Homo sapiens: one gene and its partner. Each later gene encodes a partner of the first gene's protein in a complex. Each region holds a gene or a part of one and is shown in the gene's direction. Other genes may lie near its edges.

What was found. Proteins that work in one complex are often made in the same cells at the same time.
Region 2: the proteins of SLF2 (region 1) and SIMC1 are in contact, whole or in part, in a cryo-EM structure (PDB 7T5P), measured with the Homo sapiens proteins. Residues at the interface, in NP_060591.3 of Homo sapiens: His738, Val772, Leu775, Lys778, Asp783, Phe786, Gln790, Gly791, Phe792, Thr794, Ser795, Ala796, Tyr797, His798, Tyr799, Cys820, Ile821, Gln825, Ser828, Met831, Glu832, Ile835, Arg836, Asp838, Thr839, Ser841, Asp842, Ser843, Pro847, Lys919; in NP_001295125.1 of Homo sapiens: Tyr426, Arg428, Leu431, Lys435, Leu438, Pro440, Val442, His443, His444, Leu445, Phe447, Gln448, Arg470, Arg471, Phe490, Asp493, Pro497, Val521, Asp522, Lys525, Glu526, Tyr528, Met529, Met532, Lys533, Gln536, Leu537, Arg571, Asn658, Gln661.

The regions. Positions count from the first base shown.
Region 1 is NC_000010.11:100,915,951-100,922,976, forward strand, and holds part of SLF2 (SMC5-SMC6 complex localization factor protein 2), read left to right. Parts: intron 1-48; coding exon 49-92; intron 93-619; coding exon 620-1,350; intron 1,351-2,433; coding exon 2,434-2,491; intron 2,492-7,026. UniProt on the Homo sapiens protein: Plays a role in the DNA damage response (DDR) pathway by regulating postreplication repair of UV-damaged DNA and genomic stability maintenance.
Region 2 is NC_000005.10:176,290,398-176,297,423, forward strand, and holds part of SIMC1 (SUMO-interacting motif-containing protein 1), read left to right. Parts: coding exon 1-558; intron 559-4,632; coding exon 4,633-4,865; intron 4,866-5,853; coding exon 5,854-5,923; intron 5,924-7,026.

The DNA.
Region 1 (7,026 bases):
GGTTTTAATATTTGCTTATATGATGCCATATTATGCTTTTATTTTCAGGAAGCAGTCAATTATAGATTTCTTCAAACCAGCTTCAAAACAAGGTATGTACACTGTTGATGCATTTTTTGTGGGCTATTTTGGGGGTGAGGAGAGAGACAGATTCAACTTTAAAACCTACTCTAAACTGTTTTAGTAAACGTAGTGTTCAAAATTGAAAATAAAATGAAGATGCAGTATTTTGTTTTACAAGGATAAACTGAAGTTCTAAATATGAAAGTCTTTTTGCTGTTATGTTTTCTTACATTTAAAATATTATTCTAGTAAAAAATTTAATGTTCATAATACATACTATTTTGATTCTCTAATACAGTAATTTATAGAGCCATAGGGAGGTTATATGATGTACCAAAAGAGAGCTTTATGAAACTAAGGCTTTTAACAAATAAATCATCTCTTAATTTCTCCTATACCCCCCAATAAAGTGTGTATCATTATCCAAGTTGTTGGTTTGAAAATTTTTGTGGTAACATTAGTATAGTTTAATTTATATTTTAAACATTAATAATTTAGATAAATATTAAATATTTTACTAACATGCAATTTGTATGTGTTTTAATTGGCTATTTAGACAGACACATGTTGGATTCACCACAAAAATCAAACATCAAATATGGAGGAAGTAGATTGTCTATCACTGGGACAGAGCAGTTTGAAAGGAAACTATCCTCACCAAAAGAATCTAAACCCAAAAGGGTGCCACCAGAAAAGAGCCCTATTATAGAAGCTTTCATGAAAGGTGTTAAAGAGCACCATGAAGATCATGGTATACATGAGTCACGTCGGCCTTGTCTGTCACTAGCCTCCAAATATTTAGCCAAAGGAACAAATATCTATGTTCCTTCTTCATATCACTTGCCAAAGGAGATGAAGTCACTAAAGAAAAAACATCGATCCCCAGAGAGAAGGAAGTCACTATTCATTCATGAAAATAATGAGAAGAATGATAGAGATCGAGGCAAAACCAATGCAGACTCCAAAAAGCAGACCACAGTGGCAGAAGCTGACATCTTCAATAACAGCTCCAGAAGCCTTAGCAGCAGGAGCAGCCTGTCCAGGCACCACCCGGAAGAAAGCCCACTGGGAGCTAAATTCCAGTTGTCACTAGCTTCTTACTGCAGAGAACGAGAACTAAAGAGGTTGAGAAAGGAGCAAATGGAGCAGAGAATCAACTCCGAGAATTCTTTCTCAGAAGCAAGCAGTCTTTCCTTAAAATCTAGTATAGAAAGAAAATATAAACCAAGGCAGGAACAAAGGAAACAGAATGACATCATACCTGGAAAAAATAATCTGTCAAATGTGGTATGTGTAAGAATTATTGAATTAGCATTGCTACTGCTATGTCATATTTAGAATACTAAATTTAAAAATATTTAAGAGTTGTTACATCACATTGACGTCTTTCCTGAAGGAAATACTTATGCACAGTTTGTGTAGAAGCTGGTTTCATTACATTTCCTCCAGTTGCCCTTCATCGAACTCAGTAAAGCAGTGTTTCTTATCCTTAGTTTTTTCAGACTGGGAACAAAGATCTTTTTTAGTCAGAAAAGTAAGCATTCTTTTTTTTTAAGGCAAGTATAGTCTTACTTATTTATGTGTAGACAGTCTTGCTCTGTTGCTCATGCTGGAGTGCTATGGCGTGATCATGTCTCATTGCAGTCTCAAACTCCTGGGCTCAAATGATGCTCTCACCTCAGCTTCCCAAGTAGTCGAGACTCCAGGTACCTGCCACCATATTTGACTAATTTTTGTATTTTTTTGTAGAGACAGGTCTCCCTATACTGCCCAGGCTGGCCTTGAACCCCTGGCCTCAAGCGATCCTCCTGCTTCCTGTACTTTGGGAGGCCTAGGTGGAAGGATTGCTTGAGCTCAGGAGTTTGAGACCAGCCAGAGCCACATATCGAGACCTTGGCTCTACTACAAATAAATAAATAAATAAATAACCAGTCATGGTGGCATGTGCCTGTTCTCCTAGCTACTTAGGAGGCTAAGGTGGGAGGCTCGCTTGAGCCCAGGAGATCAAGGTTGCAGTGAGTTTGATCACACCATTGCACTCCAGCCTGGGTGACAGAGCGAGACCTTGTCTCAAAAATACAGTGTTCTAATATAATATTCTTGAATTATTGATATAAACGTAAATCAGCATTTTGAAAACTGACTTCATTTTTATGATATTTTTACATGTTTATGATACAAATGCCCTTAATTTTTATGACAAAAACCTTAAGATCTTTAAATATTTTATTATAGACATTAGGATTTACCTCCAAATATGGGTGCTTGCCTTATTCAATCTAGAAATCTGTGTTTAAATGTTAGGAAGAATGCCTTCACATTCTTTACTGTCCCCAACACTTAATTAATTTTATCTCATTGTGCTCATAGGAAAATGGACATCTCTCAAGAAAAAGATCCTCTTCTGATTCATGGGAACCTACTTCAGGTAGAATCAAAATTAAATTTATGGATTTCTAAATAAATTTCCATTTTAATGGCACTGCTTTTTAAAATAAATTTGTTTAAATATGCAGTTCCCTTCTTGGGGATGAATTAAGTGTCTCATATTAATTAAGAGTTTGGTAAGATCATATTAAAAAAGACTAGTCCCTGAATCTAGTACTTATAATTTGGGTTTGTTTTTGAGACAGGGTCTTACTCTGTCACCCAGGCTGGGATGCAGTGGCATGATCACGACTCAACTGCAAGCCTTGACCTCCTGGCCTCGAATGATTCTCCCACCTCAGCTTCCTGAGTAGCTGGGACTACAGATGTGGGCAACTATGCCTGGTTAATTTCTTGTATTTTTGTAGAGACGAGGTTTCGCCACGTTGCCCAGGCTGGTCTCAAACTCCTGAGCTCATGAGCCACCACACCTGACCTAGTGCATATAATTTGTAATCTGTCTTGAATCTCTGCCCTCTTCAGGAGTTCCTAACAGTATGTTTCTCATACTGGTATTCAGTGTTTCCTTCTGAATCCTTGGCTACATCAGGAAACATAATCTTTTTTTTTTTTTTTTTTTTTTTTTTTTTGAGACAGAGTCTCGCTCTGTCGCCCAGGCTGGAGTGCAGTGGTGTAATTTGGCTCATTGCAAGCTCCGCCTCCCGGGTTCACACCATTCTCCTGCCTCAGCCTCCCAAATATCTGGGACTACAGGCGCCCACCACCATGCCCGACTAATTTTTTGTATTTTTAGTGGAGACGGGGTTTCACCACGTTAGCCAGGATGGTCTCGATCTCCTGACCTCGTGATCTGCCCACCTCGGCCTCCCAAAGTGCTGGGATTACAGGCATGAGCCACTGCACCGGGCCCCCAGGAAACATAATCTTATTATCTTGGAATTGTAGACTGAGTTGTTGGTATTATGTTGAAGATGCTTTGTATAGGGTTGAGACTGTTACCATGATAAAAAGCAGTGTTCTCTAATATTTCAAATCCAAGGATCCCTTTTTAATATTAAATTTCAAGGATATCTACATGACATTAGTTTGTACTTTTAGCATTTATTGATTGAAAAAAATATAAAATAACAAATCTGTTAATTCAGTACATTTTATCTTTTTTTAAAACTAGAAAATAGAAGATTAAAAAGGCAAACACTGCAGAAGTTTGCAACAAGAAATGAAAGGTCTCCACAACTAACAACAGTTAATAGTCTAGTGTATCCGATTTTTTTCCTGATGTGACTATACATTTTGAAAAACAAATTCCCACATTCAGTAAGATACATTGGACACGATAATAATAGCTGGCTTTCATTGAGTACTTACTGTGTGCTATGCCATTTTATGTGCTTCTAATTCGTTTGAACCTCATAACTTTATATGATAGTGGTTTACTTTTAGAGATGGAAAAGCCAAAGTACAGAGAGTCAGTTCTAATTCCTCCTTCAGGTTTCATCTACTTCATTTTATTTATATTTTAGAGGTGCATTGCATTTTGACCAAGAACTCTCAACTGGTAAAATCAATCTTCAGCCAAGGCTGAAACCATATTTTACCATTATAGAAGGAACTTCTAGGATACAGGAATAAATCTAAAGTTTTGTGTGTTTTTTGTTTATTTAATTTTTATAATGTTGCTGATTTTATGACCAAATTTTAGTGAATTTTGACATTATTGTAGAAGAACAGGAATTTCTCAGCCAGGAGATTGCTTCTGCACTCACTGTATTGCACATTTTTAATACTAAATACATGATCACCTTGCACCAAAGTTAATGGAAGAACAAAATATTATTTTATATAAGGGGCTGCTGCTGGTGGTGTGGCTACCACATTATTCCTTTTCTTTTTTCTCTGACTTAAGATTTGAAAAAATCTTTTCATTTCCTGGATTTGCAAATTTCATTCATGGTGGCTAAAGTAGTTTCATTTATATAATCCCACCTAGCAAAGTTTTTGAGTACTGCTTGGAAAAGATGCTTTCTACATATTTTCAGAGGCTGACTTATGATGGTTGCCGTCACTTATATTTTTATTACCAATATTTTTGCATGTGTTTCATAATCACTAATAATTATAGCATTATACTCTTAATAAATATACATTTATACTTCAATTGACTAACATCAACAGAATTTCAACATGTAAAGGACAAGGGGATATTTCAATCTAGATAGCATGAAGAATGCTTATTGTGTCTGATAGCAAAATTATTAAAAATCTAAGCCAGGCGCAGTGGTTCATGCCTGTAATCCCAGCACTTTGGGAGGCCAAGGCAGATGGATCACCTGAGGTCAGGAGTTCGAGACCAGCCTGGCCAACATGGTGAGACCTCGTCTCTACTAAAATTACAAAAATTAGCTGGGCATGGTGCCCAAGCCTGTAATCCCAGCTACTCAGGAGGCCAAGGCAGGAAAATTGCTTGAACCTGGAAGGTGGAGGTTGCAGTGAGCTGAGATGGTGCCACTGCACTCCAGCCTGGGTGTCAGAGCAGGACTCAATCTCGAAAAAAATAAATAAATAAAAATAAAAATCCAAATGATATGTCTTGTTCATCTTGTTAATACACTTAATCAATTGTCATGGTAATGTACATAATCACGCAATCATTAATCACATACAAGTTCAGGGATTTCAGAAGTAATGTTAGACTAGGCATTTAGCCCTTTGGTCTTCTAGAGCCCTGTCTTTTGGCTGAATTGTGAGGGGAAATTTAATCCATTGCTAGTACATTTCGTAACTGATTAATAACCAATCACCTATTAATGGCCTTTGGATTTTTCCTTTTTCTTGAGATGGAGTCTCACTGTCTCCTAGGCTGGAGTGCAGTGGTGAGATTGTAGCTCACTTGCAGCACTGAACTCCTGGGCTGAAGCAATCCTCCTGCCTCAGCCTCCCAAAGTGCTGGGATTACGGGCGTGAGCCACCATGCCCAGCCTCCTTTTTTTCTTTTTACAAACTCAATCTCTCTCTTATATGAATATTTTATGTATTAGTATATTTGAAATATTTGAAAAACTGTAAAACAAATATTCTCTACAGGCTGACAAAGGATACAAAAAGAATTATGAACATTTTGCAATTAATCACCTGACCTGAAGAGCTTGCTAAAGGGGATCCTACCTGCAGTACCAATTCACTTTTCTCTAATTCTAGATGATGAAACCCCTTAATAAGCTGACTTATCCTAAACATCTTCCACAAACAGTGTTTGTCTCCTCCTGGATCAACCCTGAATAATGCCTGAGCAAAGCAGGAATTTCTCCTCATTTCTAGCTATATTTAAATTATCTGACTTCTCTAGAAAAATGGAACAAAACTCAAACTGGCAGCTCTGTAGCTCATTTTTTGTAATCCCATACTTAAAAGTAAGATAATGAGCCAAATCTTCTCTTTTGTTTAGTCATTTAATTTCTCATCCTGTTACCCCTGTCCTTTTTGTAAGACATTTAACCCCAGAAAACTGAATAGGATGGAATGATTTCCTCAGGTAATGGGAGATATCTGTAAAAGAGCAGAGATAAGGGCATTTGTTAATTAGTTAATTTAATTTTTATAAATTGAATTTTTCAGATTATATATTGATCAAGCTATCCAAATAATAATTGCCTCTCAAGTTTGGTTTTGGCGGGTTTATTTTATTTTATTTACTCATTTTGATTCAAGGTCTTACTCTGGTGCCCAGGCTGGAGTGCAATGGCACAATTACAGCTCACTGTAGCCTCACGGGGCTCAAGCAGTCCTCCCACCTGAGCCTCCAAGTAGGTGGGACTACAGGCACATGCCACTGCACCCGGCTAATTTTTGTATTTTTTGTAGAGACTATTTCACCATGTTGCCTAGGCTGGTCTCAAACTCCTGAGCCCAAGTGATCCTCCCAAAGTGCTGGGATTACAGGCATGAGCCACTAGACATGGCCAAAAGATAAGAAATTTTCTAACTAGAGAAGGGATTGACGGGGTTGTACTTTTCGCAGAGGCAGGGTTTCACCTGAGCTCACGAACTCCCACCTTGGCCTCCCAAAGTTGTGGTATTACAGGCATGAGCCACTGTGCCCAGCCATTTTAGGTTTTTAAAGCAACTCTTGGGGAATGGAGACATCTGTCCATGTGCAGAAAATTTGATTTAGGGAAATCTGGTTTGGGGAATACTGATTGCACAAATAGTGAATTTTTTGTGTTTTTTTTTGTTGTTGTTTTGTTTTTTTGAGTTGAAGTCTTGCTTTGGTACCTAGGCTGGTCTTGAACTCCTGGGCTCAAGTTATCTTCCCACCTCAGCCTCCTGAGTAGCTGGGACTATATAGGCACACACCACTGCACCAGGTTAAAGTGAATTTTTTTTTTTTTTTTTGAAACGGAGTCTTGCTCTGTTGCCCAGACTGGCGTGCAGTGGTGCCGTCTTGGCTCAGTGCAACCACCACCTCCCAGGTTCAAGCGATTCTCCTGTCTTGGCCTCCCAAGTAGCTGGGAGTACAGGCACGCACCACCATGCCTGGCTAATTTTTGTATTTTCAGTAGAGACAGGGTTTCACCA
Region 2 (7,026 bases), on another chromosome or scaffold:
CTGCCTCAAAGCATATTACATCCACAAGATGTGGCATACCTGCAAGACATGCCACGGTCACCAGGAGATGTGCCACAGTCACCAAGTGATGTTTCACCGTCACCAGATGCACCACAGTCACCAGGGGGCATGCCACACTTACCGGGAGATGTGTTACATTCACCTGGAGACATGCCACACTCATCAGGGGACGTGACACACTCACCTAGAGACATCCCTCACTTACCAGGAGACAGGCCTGACTTTACCCAGAATGATGTACAGAACCGTGACATGCCTATGGATATCTCAGCTCTGTCCTCTCCAAGCTGCTCTCCCAGCCCACAGTCTGAAACTCCCTTAGAGAAAGTTCCTTGGCTCTCTGTCATGGAAACCCCAGCCAGAAAAGAAATATCACTGTCAGAGCCTGCCAAACCTGGGTCTGCCCACGTACAATCACGAACACCACAAGGTGGGTTGTACAACAGACCATGCCTGCATAGACTGAAGTACTTCTTACGTCCTCCGGTTCATCACCTCTTCTTTCAGACGCTAATACCGGATAAAGACACAAGAGAGGTGAGCTAACATCTTCCCTCAGGGATTAGGTGTCCTTTCCCTAGGCCTAGGAGAAGGTCAGTGTGACTGGAGTCCATGCGTGAGAGGACAGGTCAAGCATAAATGAAATTTCTTATCTTTCCTCCACTTGTGAAGACCCATTCAGTGTAGAGGCCCAGATCTGGGTTCAAATTTTAGCCCCACGCTTAAAAACTGTCACTTTACTTTTTTTTTTTTTTTTTTTTTTGAGACCGAGTCTTGCTCTGTCTCCCAGGCTAGAGTGCAGTGGCACAATCTTGGCTCACTGCAACCTCCGCCTCCCAGGTTCAAGAGTTTCTTCTACCTCAGCCTCCCTAGCAGCTGGGACTACAGGCGCATGCCGCCATGCCCGGCTAATTTTTTTTTTTTTTTTTTTTTTTTGAGATGGAGTCTCGCTCTGTCGCCCAGGCTGGAGTGCAGTGGCACGATCTCCGCTCACTGCAAGCTCCGCCTCCCGGGTTCACGTCATTCGCTTGCCTCAGCCTCCCGAGTAGCTGGGACTATAGGCGCCCGCTACCACGCCCAGCTGATTTTTTGTATTTTTAGTAGAGACGGGGTTTCACAGTGTTAGCCAGAATGGCCTCGATCTCCTGACCTCGTGATCCACCCGCCTCGGCCTCCCAAAGTGCTAGGATTACAGGCGTGAGCCACCGCGCCTGGCACGCCCGGCTAATTTTTTGTATTTTAGTAGAGACAGGGTTTCATTGTGTTAGCCAGGATGGTCTTGATCTCCTGATCTTGTAATCCACCCGCCTCAGCCTCCCAAAGTGCTGGGATTACAGGCATGAGCCACCGCGCCCAGCAGGGCACTTTACCTTTTTAAGCCTTAGCTTTCCTATCTGTAAAATGGAAGTAATAACATACCTCACAGGGTCATACGTGAAAGTGTCAGGGTGTCAGGCTCATCGTAGGCCTTATGTAAATTCTTATCTTCTAGCTGGATGTGGTGGCATGCACCTGTAATCCCAGCTACTCAGGAGGCTGAGGCAGGAGAATCACCTGAATCTGGGAGGCGGAGGTTGCAGTGAGCTGAGACTGCACCACTGCACTCCAGCCTTGGCCACAGAGCAAGACTCTGTCTCAAAAAAATAAATAAATGTTTATCTTCAACTCCTATGCTTTTCCCTTCCTGGTGCCCTTATTACAGCTTCTATATCACAGAGATAATAATACTCTATCACTTATGGGCCTCCAAAATTATTACTTGCTGACTTTGGGGGAGGAAATTCAATATTAAGACATGAGTGGGAATGCTCCTTTCCATTGGTCATCATTGATTTATGAGAAGTAAACTAGATGTGTTAGGGAAAATAACTGGCTAAGTTCCACCGTATGAAGTGTTTTTTAGTTATGTACATCCCATCCCCCATATTAAGAAAACCAGCTTGAAACAGTTCAGTGTCAAAAGGTATGCTCTCCTCATTCAAGCAGTGATCCAGGTAGGCAGGAGCCAAGGATTCACACTGATTTGACCTTGGAGAATGATTTTTTTTCTCTTTTTTAAAATTATTACATCTTCTAATATGTTGTAGGTCTTCTCCTTCTTTATGCCTCTGCCTGACCACTAGCTCATTCTTTTTTTTTTGGGACAGAGTCTCACCCTGTCACCCAGGCTGGAGTACAGTGGTACGATCTCAGCTCACTCACTGCAACCTCCGCCTCCCAGGTTCAAGCGATTCTCCTGCCACAGCCTCCCGCGTAGCTGGGTTACAGGTGCCCGCTACCACTTCCGGCTTTTTGTACTTTTAGTAGAGACAGGGTTTCACCATGTTGTCCAGGCTTGTCTTGAACTCCTGACCTCAAGTGATCCGCCCACCTCGGCCTCCCAAAGTTCTGGGATTACAGGCGTGAGCCACCGCGCCCGGCCCAGACAGCATTTATTATTGTGAATAATTTGATGTCTTTCCTTCCCAGTTGCCTTTTTATACATAGGCATTTTACATATTTTAATAATTGGGATTTTTAACATATACACATTATTTTTGTTGTTTATGGGGAGTAGGGGTTGAGAGAATGGCTCTGAAGTTTACGCCACGTGTGTTTGAAACCAGCTTCTGCCATTTGTTGTATGACAAATGCTTACCCTCCAAATCTGTTTCTTTATTTATGAGATAGGAATAATAATAGTATGTATTTCCTAAGATTATTGTAAGAACTAGTTGAGGATCAATTAAGTGTTCAGTGCTGGGCGCAGTGGCTCACGCCTGTAACCCCAGCATTTTGGGAGGCCGTGGTCGGTGGATTGCTTGAGCCCAGGAGTTTGAGACCAGCCTGGGCAACATAGTGAAACCCCCTCTATAAAAAATTCAAAAATTAGCTGAATATGGTGGCACACACCTATATCCTAGCTACTCTGGAGGCTGAGGCAGGAGAATGGCATGAACCCGGGAGGCGGAACTTGCAGTGTGCCAGGATCACGCCACAGTGCTCCAGCGTGGGCGACACAGCGAGACCCCATCTCAAAAAAAAAAAAAATTAATTGTTTAAGGCCAGACATGATGGCTCACACCTATAATCCCAGCACTTTGGGAAGCCAAGACAGTCTTGATCACTTGAGTTCACAAGTTCGAGACCAGCCTGGGCAACATGGTGAAACCCCATCTCTACTAAAAATACTAAAAAAAATTAGCCAGGCATGGTGGCACACACCTGTAGTCCCAGCTACTTGGGAGGCTGAGGTGGGAGGATGGCTTGAGCCTGGGAGGCAGAGGTTGCAGTGAGCCATGATCATGCCACTGTGTTCCAGCCTGGGTGACAGAGCCAGACTTCATCTCAAAAAAAAAAAAAAAATTAAGAGCTCCAAATTTATTGTTATTAAACCCTCATATCAAACTTTAAAATTGTTTAATTCTAATTATAAAAGTAATAAGTGTGTTATGGAAAAATTGAAAAATATAGAAGAGCACATAGAGAAAAAATCACCACTAATTCTACCACCCACATAATAGAAAATCACTTTTCACATATTCTCTCGCAGTCTTTATATACATATTTTTTGGGGGAAGAAGCAACTTAATATTTACTGTTCGCACAAAAAAAAAATGGAATTCTTCTCCTAACAACAAAATGAATTTAAAACTTCTTTCTTATCTATTTCGGTATCTGATATAGTATCACAGCTATCCCTAAGTCTCTAGTTACCCTCACCCCAAAATCAACCTAGGCTACCTGTTGACCCTTTTGTATTTTTCTGTCTATGCTATATTTTAACATAGATGAAATCATGTTATATGTACAATTTTGAATTCTGATTTTTTAACTTTATATGAGCTTTTTCCCATGTCATTAAAAGTTTTTTAGATAAAGCTCTTTTTTGTCTGTTTTGATTTGGAGTCTCGCTCTGTCACCTAGGCTGGAGTGCAGTGGCGCCATCTTGGTTCACTGCAGCCTCCACCTTCCGGGTTTAAGCAATTCTCATGTCTCAGCCTTCAAGTAGCTGGGACTACAGTTGCGTGCCACCACGTCTGGCTAATTTTTATATTTTTAGTAGAGACGGGGTTTCACCATGTTGGCCAGACTGCTCTCGAACTCCTGACCTCAAGCAGTTCTCCTGCCTTGGCCTCCCAAAGTGCTGGGATTACAGGCATGAGCCACTGCACCCGTCCTCTTTTTTTTTTTTTAATCATGAAATATTTCAAATGCCTGGAAAACTTTGCTATCTTCAACGTATTCTAGAACCTCTTATTTTTGTATACTATAGAAATCCCGGCTCGGCGCCGTGGCTCACACCTGTAATCCCAGCACTTTGGGAGGCTGAGACAGGCAAATCACGAGGTCAGGAGATTGAGACCATCCTGGCTAACACCGTGAAACCCTGTCTTTACTAAAAATACAAAAGAAAATTAGCCGGGCGTGGTGGTGGGCGCCTGTAGTCCCAGCTACTCTGGAGGCTGAGGCAGGAGAATGGCATGAACTCGGGAGGCAGAGCTTGCAGTGAGCTGAGATCACGCCACTGCACTCCAGCCTGGGGAACAGAGCAAGACTCCGTCTCAAAAAAAAAAAAAAAAAAAAAAGAAAAGAAATCCCTCCTAATTTCCTTCTTTTTAATCTCTACAGAACAAGGGTCAAAAATTAGAACCCATCCCTCATCGAAGACTAAGAATGGTAACAAATACCATTGAAGAGAATTTTCCTCTGGGGACTGTGCAGTTTTTGATGGACTTTGTGTCACCCCAGCATTACCCACCAAGAGAAATCGTGGCTCACATCATCCAGAAAATCTTGCTCAGTGGCTCTGAGACTGTGGATGTCCTAAAGGAGGCCTACATGCTTCTCATGAAAATTCAACAGTATGAACCGTAACCTCTGGCTGTTGGCGAATCTTCTAGGGATCTTGGACTCAGGGCATAGCTTTCTCTTGACAGGCTTTTTTAACCTAACCGTTACAGTGGGTGACTTAGCATATTAGTGTTATTTGAATTGCAAATGATAGGAAACCCAGTCCAAACAGACCTTAACTACTGCTAAAAGAGAATTTAATGGCTCGTGTTACTAGAAACCGAGGAGTGAGATGTGACTTGATTCAGTATACAAAAATGGTTACCAGGGTTCATTCTGCAGCTCTACTTCGGTTCTGTTTGGGGCTGCATGTGGTAGCCTCTCAGCCTCAGTTCTGTTTTGGGGCCGCATGTGGTAGCCTCTCAGCCTCAGTTCTGTTTTGGGGCCGCATGTGGTAGCCTCTCAGCCTCAGTTCTGTTTGGGGCCGCATGTGGTAGCCTCTCAGCCTCAGTTCTGTTTTGGGGCTGCATGTGGTAGCCTCTCAGCCTCAGTTCTGTTTTGGGGCTGCATGTGGTAGCCTCTCAGCCTCAGGCTTTTATGACACTTCCAGTGGGAAAGAGTGTCTGCTTCCTTTATAGTCACCCAAGAGTTCTGAAATTGAGTCTTGCAGGATTTAATTGGCCTAATGAGAGACATGACCATATCTTTGAGCCAATCACCGTGAACTGAGGGGTAGAACAGCACGATTGGCTAAAAAAGCCACATACTTCATTTTGGGGTTCTGGTAGGTAAAACTAGTTGGTTAAGAGTAGTGAAGAGTTGGTTTCTTAAGACAAAATTATAGTACTAAAGCTTTCCAAAAGGGGACTGGATACTGGGTAGCAAAAAACAATGAAGTTCCACTACTCTCAGATTGACATGGTATGATACCAGAAAGTGAGCAAGAGCATGGAGGATAATGGAGGATAGGAAGAGGCTTCTTCCTTCTATCACCTTCAGATCCTATCCCTTCTTCCGCTAAATTCTCCATAATTCTAATTGATTTCACTTGACTTTCAGGCTACATCCAGCCAATGCCAAGACAGTGGAGTGGGACTGGAAACTGCTCACCTATGTCATGGAGGAAGAGGTAACAACAATTATAAGATTATATCTTCTGTAGGGGAAGTTTTAACTATAAAGAAAAGTGATATCAGGTGCCATGGCTCACACCTGTAATCCCAGCATTTTGGGAGGCCGAGGCAGGAGGACAGTTTGAGCCCAGGAGTTCAAGGCCAGCCTGGGCAACAAAATGAGACCCTGTCTCTACAAAAATAAAAATAAAATATTTAGCCAGGCATAGTGATGCATGCCTGTGGTCCCAGCTACACAGAAGGCTGAGGCAGGAGGATTGCTTGAGCCTAGGAGGTCAAGGCTATAGTGATCCATGATCACAACATTGTACTCCAGCCTGGGTGACAGAGCAAGACCCTGTCTTAAAAGAAAAAAGAAAAGTGACAGTAAATCTGGTAATAAAGTCTACACCATTATTCCCTCCTGATTCTCCCACCCCTGCCAAAAAATTCCTATTGAAATGGTATGTGCTATCTTCCAATTCAAGATTTAGTATATTTACTTATCCCTCTCCTTGAGATCCCATTAAAAATAATAGTAAATGAATAGAGAAAGTTATAAATTCATGGCTATGAAAAAAGGGGAAGGATAGCAGATTTGAATGAAGATTAGGGAGACCTACAGAGAATGTAAGAGTGATGACTGATGAGCCGGGCAGAGAAAGCCACATATATGTAAAGAGGCTACAGCCAAGGAAGGATGAATCTTCACTTTAGAGCACCAGAGAGGTCTTGGATTTAGAAACACAATATCTAATAGAGGGCAGGAGTCAGATGTGGGCTATTGGATATTTATTGAAAGTTTGTGGATGGAACAGCCAACCTCTTCATTGCTGAGGGCAGAAGGATCAGTAGCCAGGTTACCTACCTTCAGGCAAAAAGTCACAGAATGTATTGTCTAAAAAAGTTGAATGAGGCCAGGCGTGGTGGCTCATGCCTGTAATCCCAGCACTTTGGGAGGCCAAGGCGGGCAAATCACCTGAGGTCGGGAGTTTGAGACCAGCCTGCCCAACATGGAGAAACCCTGTCTCTACTAAAAAATAGAAAATTTAGCTGGGTGTGGTGGCACATGCCTGTAATCCCAGCTACTCGGAAGGCTGAGGTAGGAGAATTGCTTGAA